Linked DNA regions of Homo sapiens. The protein of the gene in region 3 interacts with the protein of the main gene of each other region in a pairwise test. Each region holds a gene or a part of one and is shown on either strand. Other genes may lie near its edges.

Region 1 (3,752 bases), on a different chromosome or scaffold from region 3:
CAGCTCACTGCATTGTCAACAAAGTCCTCAATTCTACTAATCACTTTTATCTACAAGAGGAATTACAATGTGGGATGAAAGAGGTCTAGTACTGCCAAGCCCAGCATGCAAATGAAAGAAGAAAAAGATTAGGAACGCAGCTTCCGAAAAGAAGGCAGATAATTATCTCTCTTTTCTAAAGGTCCTATAGGCTTTTAGTCTACATGAGGAGTTATTTGTTATTTTCTCCTTTACTTAGGATGTTTTCATTTTAAGGGAGACTCTAATTGCCAAAATAGAGAAATCAATCTGAAAAACACTAACAAAAAATCTTTTTCTTTTTTTTTCTATCATAGACAAGCTGGGTACAGCGTCATGTGTCTGTAGTCCCAGTTACTGGGAGGCTGAGACAGGAGGATGGCTTGTGCCCAGGAGCTTGAGGCTGCAGTGAGCTATGATCATGCCAACTTGGGTGACAGAGCAAGACCCCATCTTTAAAAAAAAAGAAAATATATACACATCTATACACACACATGCATATATAAATGTATCATAGACACTGAGAAACTACAGTTAGAATGCTACTGCCAGATTGCAGGATGTGTCCAGAGAGGGAGAAAAAAAAAATGTACTTATGTTTCCATAGCTCTATGGATTTGGGAACAAGCAGTGAGTAAAATCTTAAAAACAAAACAAACAAAAAAAGCACACCTAAATGATAAGGAAAAAAAAACTCTTCATAATAAATAAATATCTTTCATCTTTAGGTGAAACTGGATCTAAATGCACGGAAGGCAAGGTTTCCTGTTTTAAATCCATAATAAAATAATAAATATACATAATATAAATAATTAATTTTAAAAATCCTGTTTTATTATTTCTTAATAAAGCCAATTCTATAAAGCAATGTTTACCATGCCAGAACTTCTCATCTTATCTAGTTTCCTAGCTCACTGATAAGAAAGGCTTCTGGGATGGAACAAGGTCCCATGCACTGGCCTGGATTTAAAGGGACAGTGTTGGTTATTTTCCTAATGCTGCATCTTCTGAAACAAACAGCTTTCTTGTATACCCCAGCAAATCGCAGTGGAAGAATCTCCCTTTTCACGAAAAGCAGAGCAGAGCTGCTACACTATGCCGTGTGAAACCTGCATATAGGGGCCACCTGCACCCACTGAGGAGGACACATGGCTGTTGAATATAGCTTTGCATTCAACAGAGACCTCCATACACACATTGAATAGTAGCCTTTTATCGACAGGTATTCTTTCAACACAGGTGGGCTCAAAAACAGATTTTACTATACTGTGTATTTCTCATCTAAAATCTTTGCTATTATGCCTGGCACACCAGAAAATGCTCTGAAAAAAAGAGGTCAATGTGCCAACCTCCAAACTAGACTGGTATATCAGATAAGGAAAATTAAAGGAAGCACTAGGGACCAAGTTTCTCCAGGACGCTGCTGCTCTCTGCCTGCCCCATCATTAGAGGTGCAGACAAGCTCTGAGGTCTGCAACGTGCTGCCCAGCCACTGCACGAGTAGACCACTTCTCACCCACTATGCGCAAAGCGCCTTGAAGCACTATATAAATGCTAGTTGTTGTTATAAATGTATCCCACGAGTCAGGTGGCTCAGAAAATAGCAAATTCTTATTGTTTTATTTTAAAGAATCAATAATTTTCATACTTGGTCAAAAGTCAAAATGCTTCATAGCTTAGTTTTAGGATTCTTAGGTACGGTAAGAATCTAAACGGATTAGACAACAAATGATGATAGGAACACATTCTTCCTATCTCAAATGTCAAACAACAACCGCGGAAAGGAATGTACCCTGGGATGCCACTGGAGGTTCCATGTGCTTCTGTGACCCCGACACTGACCAACCACAGCATATCTTGGCTGGTCACATTTATAAAAAATAAAAGTGAAGCAGCCATTCTTGAACACTAATGGTTTGGCTTAATAGACTCTTGTATCCAATAAAAATTGAGTTTTAAATGCCACCCTTTTTAGCGAGAGTTAAAATAAATTTAAAAAGGTGTTAAGAAAGGCTTCTGGGATGGGGGGAAGCCCCAAGATTGGCCTGGGTTTTCTGATGAAAAATGCATGAAGTCTCAGCACATAGCGGAATGAGTGCTGGTAAACGACAACTTTTCTAAGCAAGAGGCTGGGTTATCCAATCTCATGGCTAGCCCACTGAGGAGCCTTGACAGGAATGGACACAACTGCTTTCTTTGTGTACCTTTTAAAGTGTAATATCCTAAGAAAAATTATCCTTTTCTTTTGTAATTTGATTTGATGTTGCTATTTTACTGAATTAAAGCTTTTTTTTTTATCCCAACGAGTAAATTTATCATGCTACACACTGATAAGGGCTGCAAGCATGATTATGATTTCCATAAAGCAACAAGAAAGCGCTCAGTACCTGGGAAGCCCAAGCCACATGACCCATGATGGGGACCAACTGGCATCATACTCATTTTCGCTGAAAGTACTCGGCTGCTCCTCCGCGTTCTGAGTCGCCTCCTCAACAATCTGGACCTCAAGTGCTTTAAGGGCAACAGCAGGGGACGCGGCACTGGCTTTCAGCATTGCAACTGCCTCACTGTGACTTAAATTGGTCAAATCAATGCCGTTGATATTTAGCAACACATCACCTGTTCAGATGAAGAAACAAGAAAAATGAGCTGAGCCACTGAGTTTTCACCTGCAAATCTTGTTGTTTATAAACTAAGCAACAAAAGTTAGTTCCCCCAACTCTGATGAGATAAGGTATAATAATAAATGGCATTTATTATTTCTTTGTAATTTTTATAATATTGAGAAGAAACCCAATACACAGAAAACATTCCATAATTTTAAAATAATGTCATAATACATAGAAAAAAGTGTGGCCTGAGGCACCTTGACATGATTGGAAGTTCGAATCATCAGTCTGAGTTTAGCTGTGTACAGGCCCTGGGCAGGTTCATTTCTCTTCTTAAGAGTTTCAGAGATTTCTACAATTCTGTCCAATCAAAAATCACTTGATCCTTTGCCCTTAGAAATAAATCTTTAATGTATTCTGCTTTATATTTACACAGTTCTATACATAAGGACAGCCCTGTATAGTTTATTCAGGGCAAACATCAGAATATGTACAAAGAAGCTATCCCTGGGCCCACATGAAGAAATGAAACTTGCGGTTTGAATGTCTTCCCTGTTTCAGGAAGAAAAGAACTGTTGCTCTGCTAAGTAATATAATAAAAAATGGCAATGAGGATTATATCAAAGGTTAGGAAAGGATTAGTTTTGTAGGAAGCAGACATTTGTGCTACAAAGTCTACAGAAATTTATCTCTCCCAATTTATCATCAGTTTTTCAGATTATTAAAGCAAATCATTCTCATTGTAGAAAATTTAGAAAACACAATAAAAGAACAAAAAGGAAATAAAATTACCCCAATACTACAACTGGACAAATAACCTTTACTTAATAGCAGCTTGAGAAATAATTCACATACTATTCAATTCACCCATTTAAAGAACATAATTTTATGGTTTTAATATATTCACAGTTGTGCAATCATCACTACAGTAATTTTGAGAACATTTTAATCACTCCCTCTATACCCATCATTTCCCTTCCCCAACCCTAAGCAACTACTAATCTACTTTCTGTCTCTACAGATTTGCCTCTTCTGAACATTTCATGTAAATGGAATCATACATGGTCTTTTATATCTAGCTTCTTTTACTTGCATAATATTTTCAGGGTTCATCCTTGTAATTTG
Region 2 (3,752 bases), on a different chromosome or scaffold from region 3:
TCTAGCCTGTCTTTTGTGCAGAACGTTAGTACGTGGCAAAATGAAATTCCCACCCCAGAATGTCAGCTCTGAGGGGGCAGCGATTTTTTACCTGTTTTGTCCATCACTGTATTTCCAGTGCCTAAAAGAGTACTTGGTACCTAGTAGGTACTCAGTAAATATGAATGTTTAAATTCAAAGATGTATCTCACTGATGTTAGGAAACAGTGTCTTCATTTAACATTCTAAAAAGTTATTGAATTTTATAGCTTTATCACGGACAGGCTCAAGTATTTTTTAAAACTCTACCTAACTAAAAAAATATTAAACCTAAATGTAAATCTTCCTGGAAAAACCTTTTTTCAGAGGTTGATTTGGGCATAATAAATTTAACAGACAATTTGAAGTAGCTAGATTTCCCTTCTAAATTTTAAGAAGTCCTATATAGAGAATGACTGAATTATAAATTAATAAGCAATAAACATCACATTCATATAATTATACATAGGGGAAATGTTTTCTTATAGTACAGTTCTAAGGTGCTTTCAGTGAAGAAGACCCCAAAGTCACTATCAAAAATGTCAAACATGACATCCTATTTGGTAGAACTGAGTAGAAAATTAAACAGTGGAAATAGACCACAGCTTATTTTACAGTACCAATGACAGATGAACGATTGACTAAATTGTTCTTAACATTTCTCAAAATGCATTTATATTTAAATTAAATGTAACTCAAGTTCAACTTTTATTTTGACCTGTTGGGTTTTTTATGTGTGTGTGTGGTTTTTTTTTTGTTTTTTTTTTTGAAAGCACAGAAGGCCATTTTCTGACTAAAAGCCACCACCGTCATTCTTGGAAAATGGCAAAAATTAAATCTGCTTTAGGGCTTGCTCCACTAGGACGGCTTTAAACTGCTTAGTAAAGGAATGTGCTGAAGAGTGGCTGGACGAAGCTTCTGTCTTTCAGAGTGCTGCCTATTTCAATACACCAAAGATTCAGCTATATATATGTGTGTGTGTATATATATATATATATAATACATTCTATCTTACCCTAATCATGTATACATAGTCCCTTGACACCTCTACTATTCATTAAACAATGATAAATAACCATAACATGCCCTTACCTGTAATGCTTTCAAGATAACACAACTTTGGTAACACTTGCTTTCTAAGGGGGAATCATTAATCAATCACATGCCTTTGGTTGACACCATCAGTCCTCCAAAGGGCTACTTATGGCTCTCTGTCCTAGGATACTGGTGTCCTACTACATGTGCTGACATTTGCAGGAGGTAAAGCTTTCGCTTTCAGGAAGTCGAAGAGAAGAGACACGTGTGAAAACATGGTACATAAAACATGACTAACTTTCTTGATTACATTCCAGTGCAATGATCTGGAGTTAACGGGGCAGTTTGTTTCCCAAAAGGTAGCATTACTTTTGTAATATGCTTTTCAAGGCATTAGAAATTTCAGGTTTCCCTGAAGAAGTACTTTGTTTGCTGATACAAGGTGAGCCAAAGGGGTGGTGAAAAGAACACACAAAAAAGGATCTTTGTCTAACCCAGAAAGGTTGAGAAATTTGCACTGATACTTAAGTTCTGAACTCCAGAGGGCTGCTAATCAGAGCTGGGATCATTTTGCAAGACAGCCTTACTTTTTCCAAAGTAATTTATATTTAGTTGTTGATAACCAAAAAAATGTCACAAGAGTAATACCTACTGTAAAAGTGAGGTTAGAAGATTCCCTGGGTCTTGTGACCTAGGTTAAATGAAGTATATAACTACAATAGATTTTGTTTTTGTTTTGCTTTTGGAAGTTCTGTGCAAAAGCTACCATTCACAGGATTAACGAATACCTTTACATATGCTAGTTTTTTAAGTGTCTGTTTGATTTGCAAAATTAGTTTAGCTACATAAATCCTGTCCCTTAAGCCATAGTTCACAGATGTAAAACTGCAGTTTTTATAGATTCAGTAGAAGAGTTTTTTTTAACCCTAAAGGTGAAATACAGAAATTGGATAAGTCATTTTTAAGGAAATTGTTACATTCAGAAATAACCTTGGAAAGTTCACCAATGATTCCTTCTGGCATAAAAACTCTAGTCATAATCTGGTCCCGCATTGAGAAATCCATTCCAGTTTATAGTGCAAGACCATGGAAGCGGGTATCCACCTGCCCACCATTACTGTAAGTATCGATAGACTTTGAAACAGTGATTTCCAGAGTCTGCAACCACAACATGACCATCTGAAGTTAGGGCCAGGCCTTGGGGGCCATAGAGTGGGTCAGCAGATGTGTTAATGTAGGACAAAAATGATCCACTCCCATCAAAAACCTGTAAACAAATAGGAAGTCAGAATGTTATAGGAGAAGTTATAGTAATATGCTGAACATGGGTTAGAAAACTCTTGATGCTAATGTTTTTCTGTTTCTTTCTTTCTTTTTGACAGGGTCTCACTCTGACACCCAGGCTGGTGTGCCGTGGTGTGAAGACAGCTTACTGTAACCTTTAATTCGTAGGCTCAAGCGATTCTCCTGATTCAGCCTCCCAAAGTGCTAAGATAATAGCCATGAGCCACCATGCCCAGTATATATGCTTTTATATTTAAAACATTAGCATAAGCCAGGTGCAGTGGTTTATATCTGTAATGCCAGTACTTTGGTAGGTGAAGGTGGGAGGATCCCTTGAGGCCAGGAGTTTAAGAACAGCCTGAGCAAAATAGCGAGACCCCGTCTCTTAAAAAAAAAAAGCAGAAAAAAAAAAAAGCAAAACAAAAAAGCACTTAAGTAATCATCTATCCATCTATGGATATGTCTTTGTTTATGTCACTATCATATCTATAATCCTACTCTCCACTTACCTTGCTTTCTCTCCTCTCCCCATCTATTTCCAGGTGGTGGAGAAGAATATGCCATTGGCTGCTAGCTTTCACTTGTATTCCTATAGTGGTCACAACAAATATTGGGTGGGAAGGGCCCTAGATGGTGCTTAAAAATGAATGAAGCTTATTGTTCATGTTAAATCTTCACTTATTCCACTTCCAGCCTCACATCCTTTTCCTCCCCCACACTTATAAGGGGAAAAATCAGCAACTAGATGATGGAAGAATGTTCCTGAGTCATAATAGCAATGAGACAGTAGAAATTATTTTTTCCTTTTTAGAAAAGAGTGGGTTGTAAGAAGTCAATGGTTCAACAGGTAAAGCCATCCCCTGGTATCCCAGGAGACTGATACCAAAATCTTCAGATTCTCAAGTCCTTTATATAAAATAGCCTAGTATTTGCACCTAACCTGTGCACATCCCCCCATATATTTTAAATCATCTCTAGATTACTTCTAATACCTAGAGCATGCTATATAATGTAAATAATATTATGTATTTTTACAATTCGTATTATTTTTAATCATTGTATTTAACAAATTATTTTTCCTGAAATTTTTGATCTGTATTTGGTTGAATTCACAAATGTGAGATTTGGGGGTACGGGGGGCTGATTATATGTTTGGATGTGAAATCACTTTCTTTTGGTCTATCGGTTTCTGCTTTGTTACTTCTGTTAAATTTTTATTTTGAAATAATTATAGATTCATAGGAAGTGGCAAAGATAGTAGAGAAAGGTCCTGTGTACTCTTCACTCAGTTTCCTCCAATGGTCACATCTTCTATAATTATGGTACCACACAAAACCCAATACATTGACTTTGGGTTGTGTGTGTACAGTTTTATGTCATTTTATCATGTGTGTAGATTTACCACTGCAACCAAC
Region 3 (3,752 bases):
ACCAGCCCTGGCTCCATCCACCCATGCCTCACCCCTCCTCCCTCCCAGGTCCTCCTCAAGCCACTTGCCTCCAAAAAATGTGGTGATGAGTTCCTGCTGGGGGAAGGGTGGGAGAGTGAGACCCTCCACACCCACAGCCCATGCTAAGAGGCAGGGAAGAAGCAAGAAACATCCAGCAGTTTTCAGCCCTAAGAGGGGTTTTGTAGAAAACAAGGCCCAACCTTTTTTTTTTTTTAGACATAGAGTCCTGACGGACACAGTGGATCACGCCTGTAATCCCAGCACTTTGAGAGGTTGAGGCAGGTGGATCACGAGGTCAAGAGATCAAGACCATCCTGGCCAACATGATGAAACCCCATCTCTAAAAATACAAAGATTAGCTGGGTATGGTGCCACATGCTTGTAGTCCCAGCTACTCAGGAGGCTGAGGCAGGAGAATCGCTTGAACCTGGGAGGTGGAGGTTGCCGTGAGCCAAGATCGTGCCACTGCGCTCCGGCCTGGCAACAGAGCAAGACTCTATCTTGAAAAAAAAAAAAAGAGAGAGAGAGAGAGATAGAGTCTTGCTCTGTCACCCAGGCTGGAGTTCAGTGGCACGATCATAGCTCATAGTAGTCTCGAACTCCTGGGCTCAAGTGATCCTCCTGCCTCAGCCTCCCCAGTAGCTGGGACCACAGGTGCGTGCTACCATGCCCAGCCAACTTTTAGATTTTTTGTAGAGATGGAGTCTCGCTATGTTGCCCAGGCTGGTCTTGAACTTCTGAGTCCAAGCAATCCTCCCACCTCAGCCTCCCAAAGTGCTGGGATTACAGGTGTGAGCCACTGTGCCTGGCCTCAATCTTTTTTTTTTTTTGAGATGGAGTGTCGCTCTGTTGCCCAGGCTGGAGTGCAGTGGCCCAATCTCAACTCACTGCAACCTCCACCTCTTGGGTCCGAGCAGTACTCAAGCCTCAGCCTCCCCAGTAGCTGGGACTACAGGGACACGCCACTAATTTTTGTATTTTTAGTAGAGATGGGGTTTCACCGTGTTAGCCAGGCTGGTCTCAAACACCTGACCTCAGGTGACCTGCCCACCTCGGCCTCCCAAAGTGCTGGGATTATAGACGTAAGGCACGGTGTCCGGCTGAGCCTCAACCATTTATGCAAGGGAGAAACTGAGGGTCTAGGGTGGGGGAGGGTGGCATCTTTGTAGCCCGTCCTGGGTCAGGCCCCAGGCCTGCGGATTCCCAGCCGAGTGGTTTTCCAAGCCGCCTCTGCCAGCAGACTTGAAGATCTGGGACATGTGTAAGTTCAAGAGCACCAGAGGTCAGGCTTGGTTGAACCCACCCCAAGTGGTAGGTTCTGGAGCTCTGAGAGTCTCCCGGGGATGAGTTGTCAATGTCTTCCCAGATGCCAAGGGGAGGGGAAAGTGGTTGAGACCCCCAAAGTCAAGTTTATCTTCAGCCTGTTTATCTTCACTCTGAGACTTGGCCGCGTCTGCCTGGCTCCCAGGACGGGCACCTCGTGGGCCAGGTTTCCCTTTGCACCGGCCGGCACCCCCACCCCAGCTCCTGGTGTGTCGGGACGGCCTGCCCCGGCCACAGGGCCGGCGCACCTGGAGCGGCTCTGCCCCTTGTCCAGACCCGGGGACTCCCAGCCCGACCCCCACCCTGCCACCTCGTGGGGTGTCCAGAGGCAAAGAGCCACCTACTCACCGTTCCGGGAGGGACGCTGGGCCCAACTCCTGGGTCTCTGGGAGCGGAGCTGCCGCGACTCCCGCAGAGTTCCCGGGCGGGCCGCGAGGGTGAGTCAGGGCAGGCGGGGACAGGAGACCCGGAGCCGCCCCGCCCCGCCCCCGGACGACTCGGCCCCGCCTCGCCGCAGGCGCGCCCAGGTCGACCCTACTCCAGGCGCCGCGCGATCAGCAGGGTTGGGGGAAGACAGCCGTCTTAGGCTGCTTTGCCCTGGTGGGCTCGGGGCTGGCGGGAGATGCAGGGGTCTTAGAACTTTGCAACTTTGCAGTCTGGCTGGACCCTGGCAGCTGGGGAAACTGAGGGAGCTGGGGACGCTGAACTCCCAAAGCCATTCTACGGCCACCTTTCTGGGAACCAGGTCTTACGGACCCTGTCGAGAAAATGTGGAGGCCGGGCTCTGTGACTCACGCCTGTAATCCAACACTTTGGGAGGCCGAGGCAGGAGGATACCTTGGGCCTAGGAGTTTGAAACCAGCCTGAGCAATATAGTGGGACCACATCTCTACAAAAAATTTTAAAACCTACAAAAACAAAATTTTAAAAATTAGCCAGGTGTGGTGGTGTGTGCCTGTAGTCCCAGCTACTCTGGAGGCCGAGGTGGAAGGATCACCTGAATCTGGGAAGTTGAGAGGCTGCAGCGAGCTACGATCATGCCACTGCACTCCAGCCTGGGCCACCAAGAAGGACCCTGTCTCCAAAAGAAAAAAAAGAAAAAGAGGAAGTGCGGAAGGGCTCCTTCTAACCCCGCAAGGCCCAGTCACCTGGCCTTAAAGCCCAGCCAAGGCACAGGTGACTGCAGTTTTCAGGTGCTGGGAGTGGAGTTGCGGGAGGAGAGGACGGGGAGGGGACGGCTTCTCCCTTCAAGCTCTGGCCATGGGCGGGAACTGGGCTGAACCAACGGAAGTTGAGTAGAGTGGGGATGCCCTCCTGTCTGTCCCTGCCCAACACTGTGGTCTGCCCTCCAGGTGGGGAGTGGGGCACAAGCAGCTCCGAAGTCCTGGGGGGCCCAGCTTCTCTGCCTCCCCACCCCCACCCTGGCCGCCCCACTTGGGAGGCCTGAGCTGGGTCTTAGATGAGCAAATCTGTGGAGGTGGACCTTGATCTGTTCTCCGTCTGAAAAACCTTGGAGGCCGGGTGCAGTGGCTCACGCCTGTAATCCCAGCTCTTTGGGAGGCTGAGGCGGGTGGATCACGAGGTCAGGAGATCGAGACCATCGTGGCTAACACAGTGAAACACAGTCTCTACAAAAATACAAAAAAATTAGCAGGGCGTGGTGGCGGGCGCCTGTAGTCCCAGCTACTCAGGAGGCTGAGGCAGGAGAATGGCGTGAACCCAGGAGGCAGAGCTTGCAGTGAGCCGAGATTGCGCCACTGCACTCCAGCCTGGGCGAAGAGTGAGACTCCATCTCAAAAAAAAAAAAAAAAAAAAAGATAAAAAAAGAAAAGAAAAGAAAAACCTTGGATGTATCTATGGCCATACCACCCTAAAAGCATCTGATCCTCGTCTCACCTCGCAAGCTAAGCAGTGTCGGACCTGGTTAGTACTTGGATGGGAGACCACCTAGGAATACCGGGTGCTGTAGGCTTGGGCTGGTCACAGTGGCTTACACCTGTAATCTAGCACTTTCGGAGGCTGAGGAGGGTGGATCACCTGAGGTCAGGCGTTTGAGACCAGCCTGGCCAACATGGTGAAACCCTGTCTCTACTAAAAATACAAAAATTAGCTGGGTGTGGTGGCTTGTGCTACTTGGGAGGCTGAGACAAGAGAATCGCTTGAGCCTGGGAGGTGGAGGTTACAGTGAACTGAGATTGCACCACCCCACTCCAGCCTGGGCGACAGAACAGGATTCCATCTCAAAACAAAACAAAACAAAACCAAACCATCCATGGAAATGTTCCTACCTGGACTTAGGATGGGAGACGGAGAGTTCTCCCTGACAGGGTAAAAGAAGCCTTGACTTGGCCGGGCGCGGTGGCTCATGCCTAGAATCTCAGCACTTTGGGAGGCCGACTCGGGTGATT

Evidence for each region.
Region 1: the proteins of LRRC8E (region 3) and LNX2 interact in a two-hybrid assay, tested with the Homo sapiens proteins (3 studies listed by BioGRID and IntAct).
Region 2: the proteins of LRRC8E (region 3) and TRIM2 interact in binary tests that used the Homo sapiens proteins (3 or more experiments, as listed by UniProt).

What each region holds. Positions count from the first base shown.
Region 1 is NC_000013.11:27,550,803-27,554,554, forward strand, and holds part of LNX2 (ligand of Numb protein X 2), read right to left. Parts: intron 2,638-3,752; coding exon 2,406-2,637; intron 1-2,405.
Region 2 is NC_000004.12:153,333,382-153,337,133, reverse strand, and holds part of TRIM2 (tripartite motif-containing protein 2), read right to left. Parts: intron 2,321-3,752; coding exon 2,168-2,320; 3' UTR 1-2,167. UniProt on the Homo sapiens protein: UBE2D1-dependent E3 ubiquitin-protein ligase that mediates the ubiquitination of NEFL and of phosphorylated BCL2L11. Plays a neuroprotective function. May play a role in neuronal rapid ischemic tolerance.
Region 3 is NC_000019.10:7,886,541-7,890,292, reverse strand, and holds the start of LRRC8E (volume-regulated anion channel subunit LRRC8E), read right to left. Parts: upstream 1,784-3,752; 5' UTR 1,693-1,783; intron 1-1,692. UniProt on the Homo sapiens protein: Non-essential component of the volume-regulated anion channel (VRAC, also named VSOAC channel), an anion channel required to maintain a constant cell volume in response to extracellular or intracellular osmotic changes.